Linked DNA regions of Homo sapiens. The protein of the gene in region 2 interacts with the protein of the main gene of each other region in a pairwise test. Each region holds a gene or a part of one and is shown on either strand. Other genes may lie near its edges. The genes, in order: CD53, ASGR2, SEC22A, TMEM140, MS4A13, ORMDL1 and VTI1B.

Region 1 (3,500 bases), on a different chromosome or scaffold from region 2:
AATGAGAGCCAATAAATAGGAGCTGTCGCAACTGTCCAATCTGCTTACTTTTCAGGTAAAATGACTTGTCCAAAAATCATAAAATTACTTAATAGTTATTCAGAATGTCTTCTGATTCTCTATGGCATGCTCTTTCTTCTACATTATACTATAGTCCCTTTTCTAAGAGATTTTTTATTAAGTAAGCATCATTAGACTGTATTCTTCATTTACATAAATTCCTAGTGCATTTTAACATAAGCAAACATAAAAATACCACTTAATTGTAAATGTAATTGATCTTAAGCTACTATGCTAGCAAACTAAATACTTAACATATATTTTATTTTCCAAACCTTTTTGTTTGGCCTTTTCTATTTCAGGAGAACTAGATTGAGGAATAGGGGTAAGAAATGATTTTAATGCCTCATATCTTTTAAAACTTGTTAAAGTTTACTTGTTAAAGTAAATTTGAACTTATGGCTTACCTTATATCAGGAGCAAATAAAGGCATTCAAGAATTATTCCATAGTTTAGTCTTCTTAAAATAACTATTGTAGAATCTCAGTATTTATAACATAGAAGACAAATTGTAATGATTTTGAGATGAGAATCCCTTAGATCATTTATTTATTTCCCATCCCTTTAAAAAAATGACAAAATTCAGACTGATAAAAAGGTTGAAAAAATATTATGAAAAATTTCTAAATCCTTTTCACCCAGATTTCCAAAATATTAACATTTTACTTCATTTGTTTATTCTCTGGCTCTCTCATTTGACAGTAATTAGTAATTTGATTGATGCCCTTTCCCCTAAGAATGTTAGTGTATATTTCTACAAACAAATGCATTCTCTTATATAACTACTTTACAATGATCAAAACCAGGAAATTAACACTTATGCAATATAATTAACAATCTATGTACTTTATTCAGATTCCACCAATTACCTCTTTAATATTCTTTATAGCAAAAGGAAATTTCTAGTCACGCATTGCCTTCAACTGTCACTTTTGTCTCCTTTAGTCTGGAACACTTCCTGAATTTTTCTTGCCATTGATATTCTTGAAGAGTAAGGTCAGTTCTTTTTTAGAATGTTTCTCCATTTGGGTTTATCTGATGTTTCCTCATGATTAGATTCAGGTTATTTAAATTTTTGATAGGAATACCAACAAAGTGGCTTTTCTTATCCCACAAAGAGTCTTGCTTAATCTGAGCATAGCCAGCCTGCAGACACCATGGACAGGCCTCTAGCCGAGGGACCCCGTATGTAAAGTTCTGCATATTTCTACCTAGGAGGACGGAGAACCTCTGGTCTCTTGACTCTGTAACAGTGCTAACTGTTTTAGGTAACTGTTCCTGATTTACGAAGTAAGCTTATTAGAAGAGTCCCTGTCCCACCTCAGCTGTTATTAGTATCTTGCTAAGCTCCCACATGGGAGGAAGTGAGCTTCCAAGATCATCTGGATTTGTCTTTCTTCACTTTTTCTCTCCTCTTTTCTTCTTCCTTATTTCTCTCTTCTTCTATAAATCGCCAAATCCTCTCCCCTAACAGCGACCTAGAAGAAACAAAATTTTTATCAGATTACAATTTTAGGAAGGAATAAGATAACAGATATTCCTTGATTAGTTGATGGAGAGATGAATGGACACGAATACATGAGAGTTGATGCTTTGGCTTCGTTTTATTTTACCCCTACTTCTTCCTCTACAACTGCTTATTACTCTTCAAAAGGACGTACAGCGATAACTTTGATTGCACCTCAGCCACTGCTCACAGGAGTTCAAACGAGCTGATGAAAAATGGAAGGTCTTCTCCTGGATGCTCAACACATTGCACCAAATGAGTTGGGAAGTAATAGGCACAAAACCAGAGCCTGGGACGGTGGAAAGAGCATGGGCTTTGGAGGCTGAAAGAACTTGGCCTTCACCCTGCCTTTGATGATTCTTAGCTGGGTGACCTTGTGCCAGTCCTCGGCTTCTCTATTTGCAGAATGGGGCTAATGACACCTAAGTTGTCAGGCCGATTTGAGGATTATAAATAAGACATTTATGAGGAACTTAGTTATTTTGTGGGATTCAGTGAACTATCTATTATGTATCTCAGTTTGTTTGAGCAAGGCCTACATTTGGGAGCCCTCACTGGGGCAGATTTTCGCTCCTATTTAGAAAAACTTTTTCTTAATCACAGCCTCAATTGTCTTTGCTAAGGAACAAAGACTGCCACAGGCTCTGTGTAGGAAGGGATAGGGAGCCGTAATTACCTTGCGAATGCTCTTGTATGTAAATTGACAATCTGTATATAGAGAAATGTATATGGAGAAGTGTCTGGAAAGACGTTTGCCAAAATGCTAATGATGGTTATCTCTGGGAGGTGGGATTTCAGAAGATTTTATGCTTTCTTCTTTATACTTTTCTTTATTTTTTAAATGTAGAATTTTTTTTTAAAGAAAGCATGCTTACATTTGCTTTCTATTGCTGGATTTTTCAACTTTTTCTAATAGGTTTGAATGGAGTAAGAAATGTGTTCTAATAATATATATTCTCAATCTTAGCTTACAAAGGTGTTTCTCTACCAAACACTTCCATTCACTGAAAGAAAACAATTTATGCATCTTAAAGAAACTGTGCTTACATTTGCCTTTTATTGCTGGGATTTTCCAACATGTCTTAACAGAGTTCAGTGGAGAAAGAAATGTGTTCTAATAACGTATTCTCAATCTTAGCATACAAAGGTGTTTTTCTATTAAACGCTTTTCTTCACTGAAAGGAAGTCTTACAGAAACTGTACTTGCATTTATTTATTTATCTTTTATTACTGAAATTTAACATTTTCAATTTGTTCTAATAGGTACAAATGGAAAAAAAACATGTGCTTTTCTTTATTGTTTGATTTCTTTTTGTTTTTTTATTTTTTTTACAAATGGCACACGAAACCTCTTTTTAAAACGTATGAAACAAGCAAGGGATTATTCTTGCCCCGTGTATGTTTTATTCCTAAAAATCTGTTAGAAGCTAAGGGTTACCCTTAGGAATGGACTGGTAGGTAAGGTCTGAACTTGATCTTTCAGTGAGTTTTCACTGAATAAGGCAGATACACAGGGACTGAGCCATCCTGGAAATAGTATCTCATTTAGCCCTCAGAACAACCTCTGAGGTAAGTATTAATAACCCTATTTCAAAGATATAGTGAAAGACAGGTTAAGCAAGTTGCCCAAGGTCACACTTCTGATAAGTAGCACTAACAGAATTCAAAACTAGACCTGTCTGATTCCAAAGCTAGTGTTTATCAAACTGTGTTCCACAGAATACTATGTTATTTGACCTGTTAATAAGTGATCTGCAACATAAAACTAGGTTTGTAGTTATATAAACATATTTTTGTCTTAGAGACTCACAGTGCACATTAGCATATAACAGGTTTTTCTCTTACACTGTTTTTTTTTCTTTATCTTGGCTTTTGTTTGAGGAGCACTTACTAATATCTCATAAGCGTAATGGTCTATGTAGCACCAAAGCTG
Region 2 (3,500 bases):
AAAGTTAGCCAGGCACGATGGCGGGTGCCTGTAATCTCAGCTACTCGGGATACTAAGACAGGAGAATTGCTTGAACCTGGGAGGCAGAGGTTGCAGTGAGCCAAGATCGCGCCATTGCACTCCAGCCTGGGCGACAGAGCAAGACTCCATCTCAAAAAAAAAAAAAATTTTTTTTTTTTTTCAGATACAACACTTAAGGAACCTAGGAAAGGAAAGACTCAGACACATGGGAATAAGAGGTATCCTGGTCTCCTCACCTTTCCTATGGAAGTTATACAAACTTTTAGTTTTCAAAGCCAATAATTTTCAGCCTATTATTTAAAGTTATACAAGTAATCACTGGAATAACTCTAAATAAACTACATAGTTTCCAAAATACCATAAAGAAGAAAACAAAAAGAACACCTCTCACATAGCAATTGTAAGAAAATTAAGAAGCATGTAAAGCAGAAAAAAGAAAGGACTAGGGTTAAACATATCTATTAGAATGTAAATGAGACACTCACCTATTAAAAGAAAAGGTACTTATTAGATTTTTAAACATCAAAAACAAAACCTGCCAGGTGCAGTTTTTGGATTACAGTGGCTCAGACACCTGTAATCCCAATATTTTGGGAGGCCCAGGCGGGCGAATCGCTTGAGGCCAGGGGTTCAAGACCAGCCTGGGCAACATGGCACAACACCATTTCTACTAAAAATGCAAAAAACTACCCAGGTATGGTGGTGTGCACCTGTAGTCCCAGCTACTTGGGAGGCTGAGGTGGGAGAATCCGTTGAGCCCGGGAGGCACAGGTTACAGTGAGCTGAGATCATGCCACTGCACTCCAACCTGGGCGATAGAGCCAGATCTTGTATCAAAAACAAAACAAAACAAAAAACCTATATAGGAGAAATACCTTAAGCTTAGCTGCCCTGTGCTGCCCCTCAGGGAATGGTCCAGGATGAAGCCAAGATTAATTTAAATTAGCATTTTTTTTTTTTTTTGAGTCAGAGTCTCGCACTGTCACCCGGGCTGGAGTATAATGGCGCAGTCTCAGCTCACCACAACCTCTGCCTCCCGGGTTCAAGTGATTCTCCTGCCTCAGCCTCCTGAGTAGCTGGGATTACAGGCACCCGCCACCATGCCCGGCTAATTTTTGTATGTTTAGTACAGATAGGGTTTCACCATTTTGGCCAGGCTGGTCTCGAACTCCTGACTTCATGATCCGCCCACCTCGGCCTCCCAAAGTGCTGGGATTACAGGCGTGAGCCACTGCACCCGGCCTAAATCAGCATTTTTAAGGGCGAGATCCAGGAGTCGATATATTTTTTTTAACTCTTGAAGAGATTGCAATGTACAGTCAAGACTGAGAATCATTAATTTAAAACAGAGATTCAAAAAGGTAAGAAACAAAAGGATGGACAGAGATACAGCAAGCAAATGCAAGTGACAAAAAAATCAAGGACCGTGGTATTTATATATCAGATAAATTCAAGGCAAAAAGCATTAACTGGGACACACGTTGGCTTCATAGTGACGAAAGCACCGTCCACCACGAAGTTGTAGTGGTCATGAGCTTATTGTGTGCCAAATCACAGAGCACTGAGATCTTAGGTTGAACTGCATGAAACTGACATTTTTATAGGTCAAAACTGATGAAATGTTGGCAAGTTCAACCTGATCAGTAAAGCAAAATATGTTCGTACTCACAGTATGCTGTAAAGTACTAACAGAGCCTGATGTAATGCAAACAATACATATATTCTGGCCCCTGTATCATATGGCTTAACTACTGTGGCATTAAAATACTTTGAAGTTCAGCCAGACGCGGTGGTTCACGCCTGTAATCCCACCACTTTGGGAGGCGGAGGTGGGCGGATCATGAGGTCAGGAGTTCCAGACCAGCCTGGCTAAGACGGTGAAACCCCGTCTCTACTAAAAATACAAAAAAATTAGCCGGGCATGGTGGCACGTGCCTGTAATCCCAGCACTTTGGGAGGCCGAGGCAGGAGAATGGCGTGAACCCAGAAGGCGGAGCTTGCAGTGAGCCGAGATCGTGCCACTGCACTCCAGCTTGGGCGACAGAGCGAGACTCCATCTCAAAAAAAAAAAAAAAATGGATAAAATAAGCCTGATCCAGCCTCCCAGAGCAGGCCTTCCAAGGGCTTCCTCCTGCCTGTGGGAAGCGTGGCCTCACCTGCTCCTCCCAGGAGTTGATGACCACCAGGTGTGCGTTCTCCAGCTGGCAGTACTTCTCCGCCTCAGCCCAGGCCTTCCCGGAGTGAGAGAACCAGTAGCAGCTGCCTTGGTGCTCCACCCAGTTGACGGGGCAGCAGGTCCTTTGGGAGCCTGAGGGGACAGGGGGCAGGGAGATGAGATCCAGCCGGAGGGGCAGGCACACTGGGCCTGGAGACGGCCCCACCCCTACCGTTGCTGTGGAGGAGCTCCATCTGGCAGGCCACGAAGCGCAGGTCCACGGGGAAGTGCTTCAGATGGAAGAGCAGGGCATCGTGATCTAGGACAGACAGGCTGAAAGTGCTGCCGGCAGGTGTGGTCCCCACCTGCTAGGCTCCAGCCTGTGGCTGGGGAAGCATATACACCCACAGACACGTACACCATGCATAGACCACACCACACACCATACCACACACACACCACAGACATGTACACCACACATAGACCACACCACACACAGATCCATCACACACACACAAACACACCAAGAGACACACCACACACATCACATGCGTACACACACATATACCATACCGCACACACACAGACTCATCTCACACACACCACCACACATGCATACACACACAACACACACATATACACCACACTACACACCACACACAGATCCATGACATATCACACCACACATACGGAGAGAGACACAGATACACATGCTTGCAGGCACACACACGCACGCACGCACACGTGCACACTACACACACCGCACACGTACACACTACACACACCGCACACGTACACATGCACGCACATGCGCACACACCCCGGAGGCTCTCTGACCTGCTTTCAGGTCCTGCTGCTGTTTCTCCAGCTTGGCTCCTAGGGATGTGATCTTGTCACCCACGCTGCCTCCTGGAAGCGGAAAGCCAGCTGTTTCCCCGCTGAGCCTCCCTCCGTCCTCATGCTGCTGGGGGACCGGGGGCCAGCGCCTCGTCCTGGGCGATGCAGGCGTCCACCTCCTGGCTTCCTGGACCACACCCAGGCTCCCTGCACTGCCACAGTGGCTCAGGCCACTCTCCTGCTTCAGTCCCTTCAATGGGTCCCCATTTTCTCAAAATAAAGCCTCGCTCTGTCAGCACGGCTCACCTGCGTGGCCGGGCCCCTCCCCACCTCTCTCTGGCCACCCCTTACCTGCCTGCCCCTCCGATGGGCCTGCCACACTCGATTTGCTCACAGGCCCAAGACATGGTGCCTTCCTCACCTCCGGGTGTCGCAGATCCAACCTCTCCACCTGGCACTAACCTCGTCCGTCCCCACCTGCCTCCCT
Region 3 (3,500 bases), on a different chromosome or scaffold from region 2:
TTCCCAACCACAACCCTCCTTAAGACCTTAAAGATACTTTAACCTAGCTTAGGCCTGACATGGACAGATTTCCTTTTCTGCTAGCACAGTCCAGATAAGATTAGTTTAAAAAAAAACAAACTATATTATGAATCCGTGGTAAAAAGAAAAAAAGTAGGGGTATGTTTATTGAATTGATGGAGAGACAGCTTAGCCTAAGGTGGTTGGAATCTGTCTACAAATTAGTTAAGCCTGACGTTGATCATTGGACATTCATCCCCGTTTGTCAGGCTTAAATTCAAGTGCTTTGGATGCTGAATCAAATTACTGTGGTAGAAAGAGGTTTAATTTTTTCCCTAAGAAAAATCTTATCTATGGATAAGTAGAAACCATTCTCTGACAACCTTGTAATAATTTTGACAGGGAATGTAACTACTGTGTTCTGCTTTTGGTTAAAGGCTAAAGTACATATTAGGAAAATTTGAGGCTGGGCGCAGTGGCTCACACCTGTAATCCCAGCACTTTGTGAGGCCGACGCAGGTGGATCACTTGAGGTCAGAATTTGAGACCAGCCTGGCCAACACAGTTAAGCCCCATCTCTACTAAAAATACAAAAATTAGCCAGGCATGGTGGCGGGCACCTGTAATCCCAGCTACTTGGCAGGATGAGGCAGGGGAATCGCTTGAACCTGGGAGGCAGAGGTTGCAGTGAGCCATTGCACTCCAGCCTGGGCAACAGAGTGAGACCCTGTTTCAAAACAAAACAAAACAAAACAAAAAAACAACAAAAAAAGGAGTATTTGAAATGTAAGTTTGTCCAACTTTAGTTTTCCAGTTAGTGAAGTGGTGGGCAACACACCTGCATTGTTTGCTCTTTTCAACTGAGTTTCTCTAATTGAGGAGTGATGTTTCTTGATGGTAGGACTCTTCATTCCTGCTATCTGGCATAATTCATGGGACACATTAGATATTCAGTAAATGTTTGGTAAACGAATGGAACTTACAAATTGTATTCTTTTTACAGTATGTGTTTTAGAAAGCATGGATCATATATTTATTGATCTGTCCTCCAAGTCACTAAAGAATAACTTTGAAGACTACATGAAATTTGGCAACCTATTAATGAAGTCTATTCATAATATTTCTATTAGGATCCTAGAGAGGCCAGACATAAAATAATACAGTCTACTTTTATTTTACTTTTTGAGACAGGATCTCTCTCATCACCCAGGTTGGACTGCAGTGGCACAATCATAGCTCACCATTGCCTTGAACTCCTGGGCCTGCTTCAGCCTCCCCAAAGCAAGTACTATAGGCGTGTGCCACCATGCCCAGCTGATTTTTAATTTTTTTTATAGAGACAGAGCCTCACCATGTTTCTAGGTTGGTCTTGAACTCCTGGCCTCAAGCAGTGTTGGGATTATGGGTATAAGCCATGGCACCCCATCCAATCTGCTTTTAAATACTAAAATGTGGGTATTTAGAACTGCAAGTTACAACTCACCCTCAAATTAATTCCCAGAATGGTTATTGTGTTGCAGTGTACTTCTGGAAAGACAACAGTTTTATAGTTAAATAATAAACGCTTAAGGGGATAGAGTAAGACATTTTCCTACTTTCTTACACTTAGGCTAAATGTTACAATTGTGATTTAATAATTAAGTAAAACATGGTAAAAAAAAAATTAAAGAGGGGTTTATAGTATAGATATCTCTTCAGGGATCCCAACTTTTTCATGCTACTGCTTTTAGGAGAGAAAAAAACTAGATGAATGGAAAAAAACACCAATTGGGATATGTCACACTGGGACTTCAGTTTGAAGACTCCACTGTAGTAAAAAGACTAATTTGCTTCTGGATATTTTTCTCTTTAAATGAATGGAGAGGCTGGGCGTGGTAGCTCATGCCTGTAATCCTAGTACTTTGGGAGGCTGAGGTGGACAGATCACTTCAGGCCAGGAGTTTGAGACCAGCCTGGCCAACATGGCGAAACCTCATCTCTACTGAAAATACAAAAATGAGCTGGGTGTTGTGGCGCATGCCTGTAATCCTAGCTACTCGCGAGGCTGAGGCATGAGAATTGCTTGAATCTGGGAGGTGGAGGTTGCAGTGAACTGAGATCGCACCACTACACTCGTCTGGGTGACACAGTGAGACCCTGTCTCTGAAGGAGAAAAATATTAAAGGGTAATGACACAGTAACACCTAGAGATTTCTCCTTTTTCCTCATGAAAAGAGGAAAAAGGGATAGTGAACTTAATGCATTAGATTTATTAGTTGGGTTAATTTTTATTGTCAGATCAGTTATCACCATGAATGGGAAGTCATATTTTGACTTCACACAGCAGTGAAAACTATCAGCTCCTGATTTACAAGCTTTGTAACAACTGGTTTTCTGTGGTATTTTTTTTTATATATATTACTCATTTTTTCCTTTTTGGAATGAGATAATATTGACCTAGATTAAGTGGGCAGGTAAGGATTAATTTAGTCTCTAAGATACAATATTTTTGGAAAAATGCCTGTGAGATTTTTATCAGATTTTTGAATTTTCACCAGTTGCCTCACCACTAGTGAGGAAGCCTTTAGTGACATTGTGCTTTGATGGCCTGACAGAGAAGAGTTATCACTTAATCTTAGATAGTGAACATGTTTTAATTTAATGTTTTAAAAAGTATGGGCCTTAGACAATAAGCAAATTGTCAAGCCCTATCCCACAGTCAGTGGTTCAGAATTTTGAGGGCAGAGCTCAGAAATCTGCATTTTTAACTAAACTTTCAACTTCTTATGCAAGCTAAAGTTTGAGAGCCACTGTGTATTTTATGAAAGGTTGAGTGACTGTTGACCTGAGTTCCTTCAGACTCAGGCCTGTGAAGTCCTTTCATCTGTTTTTGTAAAGCAAGAAGAGAATCCAATAAAATAGGCCATTAAGATTTACTTTCTGGTAAAAAGATTGAGAACAACATTAAAACCAATATTCCTTTAGCTTTAGGATTTATTTTAAATAATTTTTTTCTGATTATAAAAGTAGTATATGTCTACTGTGAATATTGAGAACATTTAGGAAATTATAAAATAATAATAACCAATAATACCATTTCTTAGAGGTGAGCATATTCTTAATTTGGCATCTTTTTCTGCATCCGTTTTTCAATCCCTTTTTCCTTCTCTTTATCTTCGTCTCTTTATCCTTATGTTTGTGTAAAACAACATTTGCAATTTTTATCCTACTTTTTTCTCCTTAACATGTAAGCATTTTACCACATTATTAAACTTTCTCCACAAACATAACTTTTAGTTGCTGCATTATATTCTGTTATATGAATATACTATAATTTACTTAACCATCACCATTTTATAGGATATTTAGATTGCTTTCAGTTATTTGAGTGGAAGAATGTCTTTCTGTTTAAAATTTTGCCTGGATTTCTGATTATTTTTCTCAAGACAGGTATATATTTAAATTTATTGAGGTTAAAAGGTATGCCTTCAGACTCTTGTTGAAATTGCCAAATCATTTTG
Region 4 (3,500 bases), on a different chromosome or scaffold from region 2:
GTCAAGGAGAAACAAGGAATCTATGCTCTCCCGCACATACCTAGGACAATACCCAGTGCCTGCTACGGGTTGCTGTGAGACCGAGACTCAAGTAGACCACCCTCCCTACAGCTTCTTGACCATGCTGCTCACCTGATAGGGGCCCCACCTTCTCTGTTCACAAGCCCACAGCTGGCACCATTTTGAGAGTTTAATGCTGATTCATAACCAGTCTGAATTAACAATCAGGCAATGTGGCTGCAGCTGCCACCCTGGTAGGAAAGGGACAGGGAAGACCAAGCTCTCCTAAGCACACTTAGAACAGTGCCCACCACCCTGCTACAGGTGGCTGTGAGACTGGGGAGTAGCTCACCCAACCCATCACAGCTTCCAGCAACACCAACATGGACTGCTTGGATCCCAGTTGGCTGCTTCAACAGTGCTACTGCCATCACTCACATGACACCACCTGCTCAGGGGCTAGAGATCATGCCCACACACTGGGCTCACCACTCCCACTACTAGCTTCTAAGCAAGCCATGTGGAGGCCCAAGAATCAGCCCTCCAAGACCCACTAACCACCAGAGCAGCGTAAGCTGCTGTGGGGCCTAAAAAGGGCACACTTACCCCACTGTTGCCACCACTGGGGTCCAAAGGCTGCTCAGTTGGCATCCAAGTCCCAGCTAAACTTCTGGGGACTTAGTCTCAGCTAATTACCATACTCTATCCCACTGAGGAAATCACAGAGAACACTGACCCTATGCCGAAGAAGTCATAGAAAGATCACACGACTGCAGGCATCCAAAATCAAAGTCAAAGCATCTTAACAACATGCATATATCCTCAGGAAAAAATTCTCCCTTATAAAAGCAATTTCAAAAAATTGGAACAAGCAACTGCTACACCAGACGCAAAGAAATCAATGGAAGGATACAGGAAACATGTAAAAGCAGAGAAACATGACACCATTGTATTAGTCCATTTTCACACTGCTGATAAAGACATACCTGAGACTGGGAAGAAAAAGAGGTTTAATTGGACTTACAGTTCCACATGGCTAGGGAGGCCTCAGAATCCTGGCAGGAGGTGAAACACACTTCTTATATGGTGGTGGCAAGAGAAAATGAGGAGGAAGCAAAAGCAGAAACCCTGATGAACCCATCGGTTCTCATGAGACTTATTCACTATCACGAGAATAGCATGGGAAAGACCAGCCCCCATGATTCAGTTACCTCCCCTGGCGTCCCCTCTCACAACATGTGGGAATTATGGGAGCTACAATTCAAGTTGAGATTTGGGTGGGGACACAGTCAAACCGTAACAATCATCAAAGAACCACAACAGCTGTCCAGCAGCAGCAGATCCCAATCAAAGAGAATTCTTCAAAATGCTAGATAAAGAATTCAAAATATTGATTTTAAAGAAGCTCAATGAAGTGCAAGAGAAATCTGAAAACTAATACAAAGAAATCAGAAAATTAATCCAGGATATAAATGAGAAATTTATCAAGGAGATAGACATCTTAAATAAAAACAAGCAGAAATTCTGGAACTAAAAAATTCATTGAAGGAAATACACCATATGCTCAAAAACTTCAACAGTAGACTACACCAAGCAGAAGAAAGAATCTCAGAACTCGAAGACAGGACTTTTGAAATAATCCAGTCAGACAAAAATGAGGAAAAAAGGATAAAAAAGAATGAATAAAGCCTTTGAGATGTCTGGGACTGCAAGAAGCAACTGAACTTATGAATTATTGGTATTTCTGAGGGGGAAGAGAGATTAGAAAGTTTAGAAAACATATTTAAAGAAATAGACATCCAGATACAGGAGGCCCAGTGATCCCCAGGAAAATACATTGCAAAAGGACCTCACCATGGCATATTCAAAATGTCTGAAGTCAAGTGAAAGAAAGAATTTTAAAATTAGCAAAAGTGACTAGTCACCTATAAAGGAAATCCCAAATCTCATCAGACCAATTGAGGACTTTTCAGCAGAATTCTTACATGCCAGAAAACAATGGGATGGCATTTTCAAAGTGCTAAAGGGAAAAAAAAAAACAGTGTGTCTGTCAGCCAAGAATTTTGTATCCTGCCAGAATAAGCTTTATAAAAGGAGAAATAAAGTCCTTCCCATACAAGCAAATGCTGAGGGAATTTGTCACCACTAGACTGGTACTACAGGAAATGCTCAAAAGGATCTTAAACACTGAAATGAATGGTGTTTTTAATTAATTATTTTTGATAGAGGGTCTTGCTTTGTCACTCAACCTGGAATACAGTAGTGCAATCACAGTTCATTGCAGCCTTGACCTCGTGGGCTCAAGCAATCTTCCTGCCTCAGCCTTTTGAGTAGCTAGAAATACAGACATGTGCCACCATGCCCGGTTAATTTTTAATTTTTTTGTAGAGACAAGATCTTGCTATTTTGCCCCGGTTGGTCTTGACCACCTTCCATCAATTAATGCCCCTGCCTGGCATCAATTAATCCCCCTGCCTAGCATCCCAAAGCACTGGGATTAAAGGCATGAGCCACGATGCCCAGCCAAAAGGTTGATATTCACCATCACAAAAACATACAGAAGTATAAAACTCATAGTTTGTATAAAACAATCATACAAAGGAAGAGAAAGGAATCAAATGGCAACATGACAGAGTTTCATCAAAACACAAAGTCAAAAAGGCAAAGACAAAGAGTCTATAAAACAACCTGAAAACAATAAACAATATAACAGAAACAAAGTCTCACAGATCCATATTAACCTTGAATGTAAATGGATTAAATGCTCCACTTAAAAGATACAGATTGGCAGAGTGGATGAAAAAACATGATCCATGCTGCTTACAAGAAACTAACCTTACCCATAAAGACATATAGACTGAAAACAAAGGGGTGGAAAAAGATATTCCATGTAATTATAAACCAAAAGCAAGCAGGCATAGCTATACTTATATCTGATAAAACAGATGACTTTAAATTAAAAATAGTAAGAAAAAAGATAAGGTCATTGTATAATGATGTAGGGATAAATTCAGCAAGACGATATAATAGTCCTAAATATATATGTACCCAACATTGAAGCACCCAGATTAACAAAACAAATATCACTAAAGAAAGAGGTAGACAGCAATACAATAACTGTAGGGGACTTTTAACACTCCACTCACAACACTAGACAGATCATTGGGACAGAAAATTAACAAAGAAACATTGTACTTAAATTGAACTTTAGACCAAATGGACTTATAAAACATTCTACCCAACAACTACAGAATATACATTATTTTTGTCAGCACATGGAACATTCTCCAAGATAGATCACATGTAAGGCCACAAAAGAAGTTTTAACAAACTTTTTAAAAATTGAAATTATATCAAGTATCTTCTCAGACCACAGTGGAATAAAACTAGAAATCAATACCAAGAGGAACTTTGGAAACTATACAGATAATGGAAATTAAACAGCATGCTCCTGAACAACTACTGGGTCAATGAAGAAATTAAGACAAATTAAAAACATC
Region 5 (3,500 bases), on a different chromosome or scaffold from region 2:
CGGAAAGGGAACTCCCTGACCCCTTGAGCTTCCCAGGTGAGGCAATGCCTCGCCCTGCTTCGGCTCGCGCACGGTGCGTGCACACACTGGCCTGCGCCCACTGTCTGGCACTCCCTAGTGAGATGAACCTGGTACCTCAGATGGAAATGCAGAAATCACCCGTCTTCTGCGTCGCTCATGCTGGGAGCTGTAGACCGGAGCTGTTCCTATTCGGCCATCTTGGCTCCTCCAACCTACTTTACTAATTTTTGAAGCCTTTCTTTGTTAAGTCCAACATTTATTCTTCCCTTGCTCAAAGACGCTATGTCTATTAAGTGTTGTTTTGAACCCTATGGGTAACTATTATTATTTGCATACTTTTTGTTGTTGAAAACTGGACATTTTAGATAATATATGGTAGCAATTTTAGATTCTGATTGCCTCATTTCCCAGGAGTGGTGGTTAGCAATACCAGTGGTTAGTATCTTGGAATACTGGAAGTCCTAACTCCCAGTACCTTGGAATGTGACTGTATTTGGAAATAGGGTCTTTTAACTGGCAATGAAGTTATAATAAGGTAATTAGAATGAGCCCTAATCTAATATGACTGGTGAGCTTAGAAGAGACTAGGACACAGACAAATAAAGAGAAGACCATGTGAAAACACAGGGAGAAGACAGCCAAGTGAAAGCCAAAGAGAGATGCCTCAGAAGAAACTAACCCTGCCAACACCTTGATCTTGAACTTCTAGCCTCTGGAATTGTAAGAAAATAAGTTTGTTGTTTAAGCTACAGTCTGTGGTGCTTTGTTATAGAAGCTCTAGGAAAGTATTAGACACCTTGAGCCAGTAAGACTTCTACCCTTTCCCAATGAATCAGTGTAGCTTGAGCAATATATTCAAAGTTGAGGTTGCCCCAGCTTTTACTTTATTTTTGCAAGGCCTCTTGTTCAACCAAGGGCTCACTAGGACCTTCTCCTGTCTCCTTAGTATGTGTATAGCTTTGCACATATTTATATTCTTCCAGACTACAGGGGAAAAGTAGGAAGTTATCAAGGTCCACTGTGGCTGTCCTGTTCTTCAAATTTCTCTGTTGAGTTTCTGGTTGGTTGCTAGTAAATTTTTTGCCCCAACAAGTATTGTGATCTTAGTCAGGCTAGGAGTGACCTTGGCCTTATCTGCTTGTTTGTCACTGGGATTACTGTTGTTTTAATAACGCTTTTGGTCTTGGAACTTTCTGAGCTCTGTTCCAAATAAAACTAGTCATCTCAAGCAATGAGGCTGCTGGGCCTCACAGTCTGACCCACCAAGGTAAACTTCTGCGTAACGGAATCTGAGGGTGGGGTAGTATATTAGTCTGTTTTCACACTGCTATAACAAACTTGTCAAGACTGGGTAATTTATAAAGGAAAGAGGTTTAATTGACTTACAGTTCCACATGGCTTGGGAGACCTCAGGAAACTTACAATGATGGCGTAAGGCAAAGGGGAAGCAAGGACCTTTTTCACATGGCAGCAGGAGAAAGAAGACTGAGTGAATGAGGAACTTGCTAAACACTTATAAAACTATCAGATCTCATGAGAACTCACTCACTATCATGAGAATAGCATGGGGAAAACTGCCCCCATGATCCAGTTTCCTCCCATCAGGTTCCTCCCTCAAAACCTGGGGATTACAATTCAAGATGAGATTTGGGTGGGGACACAAAGCCTAACCATATCAGGTGGGAAGAGTGGGAACAGTCCCAAGCTAACATGCCACAGACATGCACTGTTCTTACTGAGGTCCAGTAGATTTTCTTAAATAAACACTTCTCAAGTTCTTGTATGCTTGGTCAACTTCCTGAATCTTTAGAAGGTTGTTCATTGACAATTTTGTTCAGTTTTATAATTTCATTTTTAGGGAGAGTTACCATGTCCTCAATCAGCCATTCTGGAAATGCAACTCATTCCCTCTCTTCAGAAATCCTTTTACCATGTAGTCTTATAGTTGTTTCTGTATTTCAATCAGTTGTTGATCATAGTAGTCTTCCTTGACCATCCTACATAAAATAATCTTGCCTTATCTCCTTAGTTTGCTTTATTTTACTTCATAACATTTTTCAGTTCTTGACATTTTATAATTTTATGTGTTTGTTTATTGCCTTTCTCCCCCAGTGGAATGCAAACTCCCTAATGGAGAGGCCATTGTTTTGTTAATCATTGCATCCTTAGTGCCTATGACAATGCCTAGCAAATAGCATGCTCTCCGTAAATATTTGAGAAAGAATGAATGAATGTTAGATATGTAGTCTTTTAAGCTTGTGAGAAAATAATCATTCTCATAAACTTTTGTGAGTTGTTATAGCATTTTGGGATGTTGTTACACTTGATCCTGCAATGACATTTCTAGGAATCAAACACCTAAAGAATTAGTGGTCCTGTATGCAAAAATATTTATACTCAAATGTTCACTGCATCATTGTTTATAATTTAGAAAAAACTGGAAACCAAGCTACATATGCAGTAATTAGGGAATGCTAAATACTAAGAAAAACAATGAAGGCAATAAAAGGCATTATTTAGATATGTTTTGTAATGGAAAGATATTTCTAATCATTGCAAAAAATGAATGTGACAAAATAATGTGAATATAATACATACAATTAGTAAAGAGAATGTGTGTGTATTCGTCTTTTTTTGTATAGAATTGGATGTGTGGATACGATGAGAACTATATTAAAGAAAAATCACTTTTTACTCTATATGCTTTTTGCTTTTAAATGTAGTTTCATGTATTACTGTTATAATTTTATGCTATTTATAAAATAACAAAAATAAAAAATAAAGGCAATATCACACATTCCATTTATATTAGTTCTAAATATTTTGTATCAGTGCACTTCATCTTCTCATAGAGTGTAGTTACTAGAAATCAACATCTTTTGATTTGCCAGAGAGTGGGTAAACACTTACCAAATTGGAACAGCTGTATATTGAGTGTGTAAGTGCAATAGAAAATTCCAAACCGTAGAAGAACAGTAAAATACGTGATACTTCCCTCCCAAGTTTCTATAACCAAAAAACAGGGAGAAATCTTAATGCTATTATCTTTAGTGAGTGCAAACATGATCATGGAAGGAGCTACTGGTATGAGAGTCAAAAAAAAAAAAAAAAAAAAGGAAGGAAAATAAGAACAGATAAACCTTTCACCATTTGATTTCCTTAGACATTTCTACTCCTTTGCCCTCTGCTACACTTTCCCTAGCTTTCAGTTCCTCAATTCAGCATCTGTGGCTTCTGCATTTGATCTCCATTGCTTAGCATTCTTGTCTCACTTCTGACAGCTTTTACAGAGTCGCTGGCACAGCTCACTATCTAAACTCTCCAGTTAGTAAGATTTGACTTTCCTGTCTCTAATGATAAGATGGCCACCAACAGATTTATCAAGCAATCCTTTTCTATTAAAACAGCTATTATTAATCACAACCCTTCTTAAATTTACATACATGGTGATAAAACTCTCACATATATATTGCTCTAAT
Region 6 (3,500 bases), on a different chromosome or scaffold from region 2:
TTTCTAACCGGGTGTAACAATTAGGTCCATTTTCTCATTTTTAAAGGCATTCAATATGTACTTCAGATTTTTAATTGGTTTAATGTGGCTATATTCAAAGGAAACTTAAATTTGGAGTCATGTAATTGCAACTCCGATGGCTAATTAAGTTTTTAGTGTGGTGAACTAATAACAAATAAATCAGAAGTTTGCTTTTCTATACAATGTCAATTACCAATCATTTGTCCATGGTCAACCAACTTGAAACACGGTTAGGGGGTGGTGGTGGTACAGGGATGGCATCTAAACCGTGGTGGCTCACACTCAGCACTTTGGGAGGCCGAGGCGGGCAGATCACCTGAGGTTGGGAGTTCGAGACCAGCCTGACCAACATGGTGAAACCCTGTCTGTACTAAAAATACAAAAATTAGCCAGGCATGGTGGTGCACACCTGTAATCCCAGCGACTCAGGAGGCTGAGGCAGGAGAATCGCTTGAACCCAGGAGGGGGAGGTTGCAGTGAGCCAAGATCGTGCCACTGTACTCCAGCCTGGGTGACAGAGTGAAACTCCGTCTCAAAAAAAAAGGACTAACTTATTCGGCAAACATTTAAATACGTTCTTAGCGATACAAAAATTAAAACATAAAGAGATAAACTGCTAATTATAAAACAATGACAAACACATGATAAAAGAATGCAGCATGGGAGTTGTGTAGATTCCTGGAGGGACAGTTTTGCTGTAGGAAATCAGGCAGAGCAGGAAGGAGGGAGAGGTATTAAAATAGTAGAGACTGGGCCGGGCATGGTAGCTCACACCTGTAATCCCAGCATTTTGGAAGGCCAAGGCAGGTGGATCACCTGAGGTCAGGAGTTCAAGTCCAGCCCGGCCAACATGTTGAAACCCCATCTGTACTAAAAATACAAAAATTAGCCAGGTGTAGTGGCACATGCCTGTAGTCCCATCTGTTCAGGACGCTGAGGCAGGAGAATTGCTTGAACCTGGGAGGTGCAGGTTGCAGTGAGCCAAGATTGCGCCACTGCACTCCAGCCTGGATGACACAGAGAGACTCCATCTCAAAAAAAATAAAAGTAGACCCTGAGTACTATGGCTCACTCATGCTTTGGGAGGCTGAGACAGGAGGATCACTTGAGGTCAGGAGTTTGAGACTAGACTGGGTAACACAGCAAGACCCCCATCTCAATCAGTCAATCAGCTGAGCATGGTGGCACACACCTATAGTCCTAGCTACTTGGAAGGCTGAGGCAGGAAGATCACTTGAGACCAGGAGTTCGAGGCTGCAGTGAGCTATGATCATGCCACTGCACTCCAGCCTGGGTAACAGAGTGAGACCCTGTCTCTGTAAGAAAAACAAAATGGCTGGGCATGCTGGCTCATGCCTGTAATCCCAGCACTTTTGGAGGATGGTGCAGAAGGACTGCTTGAGGCCAGGAGTTCAAGACCAGCCTGGGCAACATAGTGAGAGCCTATCACTATTAAAATAAAAACAAATTAGCCGGGTGTGGTGGCATGTGCCTGCAGTCCTCAAATTTATTGGGAAGCTAAGGTGGGAGGAGCTATGATCACGCCAGTCTCTTAAAAACAAAAGAGTACTTGGTCCAGGTGAAAAGAAAATATAGTAGAAAAGCTTAAGCCAAAACAATAAAATGAGAGCAAGATGATTTTCTTTATTGCTAGTGTATAGCCTCTATTTAGAGATGGTTGAGACAAGGTGAAGTCTCCTTGTTTCTGCACTGTTATCAACTGGTCTTATATGTCACACAAGAAACTTGGATTTTACCATGACTGCAATGGATGATCACTGAATGACTTAGAGTATGACTTGAGCAAACATGCATTTTTAAAACATCACTCTGCCAAGCTGGAATGGAGAAGGGTAGAGAAGCATCAAGAAGACTATTTGATTTATCTGAGTAATTTACTTGAGGAAAAAATGAGGGTATGGGGATCAAGTTGAGAGTAAAGCAGTAGAAGACAGTGCTCTGAGCAAATGGATATGGAATATAAAGGAAAAGAAGTTATCCTAAGACTTAGGTGACCTTGTATTCTTGTTTGCATACGATGGTTCTGATTATACCTAATCTCTTGTAGTAGTTATTACCAAAGCTCCATTTTACTCTCTAAACAGCCTGTTTGGACTATACATTACAGGTTGAGTATTCCTTATCCACAATGCTTTGGAGCAGAAGTGTTTCAGATTTTGGATTGTTTTGGATTTTGGAATATCGGCATATACATAATGAGATATCTTGGGGACAGGGCCCAAGTCTAAACATGAAATTCATTTATGTTTCATATACATCATACACACACAGCCTAAAGATAATTTTATATAGTATCTTTAATAATTTTGTGCATGAAATAAAGTTTTGATTGCATTTTAATTGCAACCTGTCAGGAAGTCAGGTATGGAATTTTCCGCTTGTGGCACAACACTGGTGCTAAAAAAGTTTCTAATTTTAGAACATTTTCTATTTTGGGTTTCTGATTAGGGATGCTCAACCTGTATATTAATTGCTTTACCATTAACATTCAGCTGTCTGGCTTGGCCTTTAGATAAGATTAGTAGTGAAGCCAGAGGATCAGATTGTGGGTGGTAAGGGAGTAATCAGGAATAAGATAAGTTCCATTTATACTTGTTTGGTTTAAGGTGCAAAGTAATCTGGTGATAAAAATAAATAGGAGCATCCTTATTCTACAGGTAGAAACTGAAAATATGGGTAGATGAAGTAACCTAGGTAGAATACATAGCATAAGAAGAGATGAAGAAAAGAACCTTGGGAATAGAAATATTTAAGAGAGGAAAAGAGAAGGAAGACCCCATAAGAAGAAAGAGAAGGTCAGAAATATATGCCGGTGAAAGTGATCCTATAGAAGCCAAAGGAAGTTTCAACAAAAGTGAGATGATTAGTGTAAAATATTTCAGAGAAGTCACTATTTAAAAGAAAACATCGTTTGCTCTTACAAAGTCTATCACATAAAATGGACTAAATGGACACATATTTATCATGTCTACCAGCACATCATTCTTATCCTCCTCCAGTCAACTTCAAATATACTCCAGAAGATAGAAAATAAATATTATTGTTATTATTTGAGGCAGGGTCTCACTGTCACCCAGGCTGGAGTGCAGTGGCACGATCTTGGCTCACTGCAACCTCCACCTCCCAGGCTCAAGCGATTCTCCTACCTCAGCCTCCCGAATAGCTGGGACTATAGATGTGCTGCCACCATGCCAGGCTAAGGTTTTGTATTTTTTGTAGAGACAGAATTTCAGGCTTCACCATGTTGCCCAGGCTGGTCTTGAAATCCTGAGCTCAAGTGATCTGTCCACCTCAGCCTCCCAAAGCACTGGGATTACAGGCATGAGCCACCGTGACTGGCCAAAATAAATATTAATTTTTAAAAATCAATTTCTCCTGTTTTCCTGTCTTAATGCTTTAAGTTCATTTTAAAAAATATCTTTCAACAAATGTACTGCTAAACTGGATTCAATTAAAAT
Region 7 (3,500 bases), on a different chromosome or scaffold from region 2:
CAATATTTTTATGATACACGTTAAGACATATGGAGAGATGTCTTCAGGTATGACAAAACCAAAACTAGAAATCATGACCACAGGCATTTAACATTGATTAGATTAAGAAATTATAGCACATTATAGTACTCTGAGGTAATTGGAGAGACCTCTTCAGAGGTTGTAAAACCAAGAGTAGAAATTATGGCCATAGGTATTTAATGAAATATTAAATGGATTAATAATTATTGTAAGTGGTAATGGACAGTTACACAAAAACTTCCTAAAACAGGACACATTGTCTCTAGTATCATTCAAAGGCAGAAAGTGAATGGAGACTGTACTTTGGAGAAATACAGTTTTTGTTGTTTTAATAGGTGGAATATACCCATTTTTAAAGTAATGAAAATGTGGACAACAGAATAGAAATAAATCACAATCATATATCAATATTTTCTTTCCAACAATTCACACATTCCATCATCCAATAGGTATCTATGAAGCACCTAGTCTGTGCTAGGCACTGTTCTGGTACTTAGGAAACACAGTGAAAAAAAGACAACATTGAGCTTATATTCTAGCTCAGTGGCTTTCACACTTAGCCTTCATCAGAAACCCCCTGGAGGGCTGTGAAAACACACTGCTTGTTAAAACTTTCTGATTCAATAGGTCTGGGGTGGGGCCTGAGAATTTGCATTTCTAACAAGTTCCCAAATGATGCTGATGCAGCTGGTTCATGGACCACAATGAAACCACTGTCCTAGTGAAAGGAAGACAAACAATATACTGTAAATATCATAAATGTGGAAAGTGTCTAATATGTCAGAAAATAAGTACTCTGGAAAAAAAAAGGTAAGAATAGTTGTATACAGGGCTGGTATTCTTAATTTTCATTTAAATAAAATGGCTAGTAGCTCTATTATCAGGCAGTATTCTAAGGACTTTACATATATTAACTCATTTACTCCTCACAAAAACCCTGTGAAGTAGATACTATGATTTATCCCCATTTGGCAGGAAAAACTAATTGGGTTAAAGTAACCTGTCCAAGGTCACACTGCTACTAGAAGGTGAATTTAAACTCAGGCAATCTGGCTCTTGAATTCTTGCTGTTAAATATTATACTATATGGCCTCTCAATTCACATACTTCTTCATAATTTTTTTTTTTTTTTTTGAGACGGAGTCTTGCTCTGTCACCCAGGTTGGAGTGCAATGATGTGATGACAGCTCACTAAAACTTCAAACTGCTAGACTCAAGTGATCCTCCTGCCTCAGCCTCCTGAGCAGCTGGGATTACAAGTGAGCAGCACCACACTACTCAGCTTTTTTTTTTTTGTAGAGATAGGTCTCACCATGTTGCCAAGGCTGGTCTCCAACTCTTGGCCTCATGCAATCCTCCTGCCTCAGCCTCCCAAAATGTTGGGATTACAGGCACGAGCCACCACACCTGGCCCCCGTATGTTATTTTTAATGGCAGAAGAAGAAACATTTTGTAAGGCTATATTATGTCATGATCTCTGTTCTACAGGTACCTTTGATATTCTCATCCACAACCCAAACTCTGCTTCTCCTCTTATGTTTCTTACTTAAGTTCATCATTCACCCAGTTGACCAAGTGAAAAAATGCAGACACCCTGGAACCTTTCTCCCTCACTCCTCATATCCATTGAGGCTGGTTAATTTCTGCCTCAAAACCAACTCTTGGGCCGGGAACTGTAGCTCACCCCTGTAACCCCAGCACTTTAAGAGGCTGAGGTGGGTGGATCACTTAAGCCCAGGAATTCGAGAACAGCCTGGATAACATGGGAGACCCTTACTAAAAATACAAAAAATTAGCCAGGCCTGGTGCCATGCACCTGTGGTCCCAGCTACTCGGGAGGCTGAGGTGGGAGGATCACCTGAGCCCGGGAAGCCAAGGCTGCAGTGAGCAGTGATGGTGCCACTGCACTCCAGCCTGGATGACGGGAGACAGGAGTGAGAACCTGTGTCAAACAAATTCCCGTTAGCAAGGTGACTGCCCAAAAGGCTCTTAACACAGTCCCCTGTACCCAGATTCTTGTGCTCTCTCTTGTCCTGTCTAGCCATTAATGCCCTCCTTCTAAAAGAAAATCCACATCAATCAACTGCTTTACGTCCTTTACTGACTTTCCATATCAAGTCCAAATGTCTCAATGTGACACTGAGATCCCCTCACAATCTGGCTGTTTCACCTGCCCCTCTACTACTACTTTCCCACATACATTCTAAGCTCCAGAGTTGGGAGTATTCCATGTTTTACTCCTGTGTTGCCTCTTCGCATTTCCCATCTAGCAAACTCCCATTCAATCCCTTATATTCAGTTTGAAGTTTTTTGAAGCTTCCCCCTCTTCCCCATGCTCAAGTCCAGCCCTTTTTATGGTCTCAGAGAACTTTATTTTAGGATTAATCACACACTTGGTTGTAAGGTTTGTTACCTTTTTTTTTTTCTGAGATAGAGTCTCGCTCTGTCGCCTGCAATCTCTGCCCCCTGGGTTTAATCGATTCTCCTGCCTCAGCCTCCTGAGTAGCTGGGACTACAGGCACATGCCACCACACCCAGCTAATTTTTGTATTTTGAGTAGAGATGGGGTTTCACCATGTTGACCAGGATGGTCTCCATCCGTGACCTTGTGATCCGCCCGCCTAGGCCTCCCAAAGTGATGGGACTACCAGCATGAGCCACCGTGCCCGGCCGTTTGTTTCTTTTTAAGGTAAGAACTCTGGAAGTCCTCAGAGCCTAGACAGTGGCTGATACATAATAATTCTCAGTGTTTATTGAAAAATGACTGAATTCAATTACAGAGCATAAGCTACATGCAAGGACTGTATTATGTACATTATGCTGTGCCTAATAATTCATGATGGGCATTAAAGCTCTGAAAACTTTATGATGTGGTCTCTGAACTAGAAAAAGAGGATTCAGAGATGAGGCACCATGTGTTTGCTTAGATAAATTCAATTTATTCAACAAACATTTATTGAGCAGTGTGAATGAGGTAGTGAATAAGAGGTAAAGTTGTTGGACTTATTATAATTCTAGGGATATGTATATATTTTCTTTACTTATCCATTAAACAACTATGTCTGTTACCAGCAACTTAGAGTATTTTGTGGTTGGGCGCAGTGGCTCACACCTGTAATCCTAGCACTTTGGGAGGCCGTGGCGGGCAGATCACTTGAGGTCAGGAGTTTGAGACCAGCCTGGCCAACATGGTGAAACCCCGTGTCTACTAAAAATACAAAAATTGGCTAGGTGTGGTAGCATGCGCCTGTAATCCCAGCTACTCGGAAGGCTGAGGCATGAGAATCACTTGAACCCAGGAGGTGGAGGTTGCAGTGAGCTGAGATTGTACCACTGCACTCCAGCCTGGGCGACAGAGCAAGACTCTATCTCAAAAAAACAAAAAAAAGAAAGAAAAAAGAAAAGAAATTCACATATTTCTGATTGTCCTCTTTGCAGGATGGAGAAAAAGGCTGGGTAGACAACAAAGGTGAATGTAA

What was found.
Region 1: the proteins of ASGR2 (region 2) and CD53 interact in binary tests that used the Homo sapiens proteins (3 or more experiments, as listed by UniProt).
Region 3: the proteins of ASGR2 (region 2) and SEC22A interact in binary tests that used the Homo sapiens proteins (3 or more experiments, as listed by UniProt).
Region 4: the proteins of ASGR2 (region 2) and TMEM140 interact in binary tests that used the Homo sapiens proteins (3 or more experiments, as listed by UniProt).
Region 5: the proteins of ASGR2 (region 2) and MS4A13 interact in binary tests that used the Homo sapiens proteins (3 or more experiments, as listed by UniProt).
Region 6: the proteins of ASGR2 (region 2) and ORMDL1 interact in binary tests that used the Homo sapiens proteins (3 or more experiments, as listed by UniProt).
Region 7: the proteins of ASGR2 (region 2) and VTI1B interact in binary tests that used the Homo sapiens proteins (3 or more experiments, as listed by UniProt).

What each region holds. Positions count from the first base shown.
Region 1 is NC_000001.11:110,876,148-110,879,647, forward strand, and holds part of CD53 (leukocyte surface antigen CD53), read left to right. Parts: exon of another isoform or gene 1-1,487; coding exon of another isoform or gene 1,488-1,538; intron 1,539-3,500. UniProt on the Homo sapiens protein: Structural component of specialized membrane microdomains known as tetraspanin-enriched microdomains (TERMs), which act as platforms for receptor clustering and signaling.
Region 2 is NC_000017.11:7,104,823-7,108,322, forward strand, and holds part of ASGR2 (asialoglycoprotein receptor 2), read right to left. Parts: intron 3,086-3,500; coding exon 3,014-3,085; intron 2,496-3,013; coding exon 2,409-2,495; intron 2,330-2,408; coding exon 2,178-2,329; intron 1-2,177. UniProt on the Homo sapiens protein: Mediates the endocytosis of plasma glycoproteins to which the terminal sialic acid residue on their complex carbohydrate moieties has been removed. The receptor recognizes terminal galactose and N-acetylgalactosamine units.
Region 3 is NC_000003.12:123,204,943-123,208,442, forward strand, and holds part of SEC22A (vesicle-trafficking protein SEC22a), read left to right. Parts: intron 1-1,358; exon of another isoform or gene 1,359-2,165; intron 2,166-3,500. UniProt on the Homo sapiens protein: May be involved in vesicle transport between the ER and the Golgi complex.
Region 4 is NC_000007.14:135,154,572-135,158,071, reverse strand, and holds part of TMEM140 (transmembrane protein 140), read right to left. Parts: intron 1-3,500.
Region 5 is NC_000011.10:60,528,892-60,532,391, reverse strand, and holds part of MS4A13 (membrane-spanning 4-domains subfamily A member 13), read right to left. Parts: intron 3,028-3,500; coding exon 2,932-3,027; intron 1-2,931. UniProt on the Homo sapiens protein: May be involved in signal transduction as a component of a multimeric receptor complex.
Region 6 is NC_000002.12:189,777,840-189,781,339, forward strand, and holds part of ORMDL1 (ORM1-like protein 1), read right to left. Parts: intron 1-3,500. UniProt on the Homo sapiens protein: Plays an essential role in the homeostatic regulation of sphingolipid de novo biosynthesis by modulating the activity of the serine palmitoyltransferase (SPT) in response to ceramide levels.
Region 7 is NC_000014.9:67,668,133-67,671,632, forward strand, and holds part of VTI1B (vesicle transport through interaction with t-SNAREs homolog 1B), read right to left. Parts: intron 1-3,500. UniProt on the Homo sapiens protein: V-SNARE that mediates vesicle transport pathways through interactions with t-SNAREs on the target membrane. These interactions are proposed to mediate aspects of the specificity of vesicle trafficking and to promote fusion of the lipid bilayers.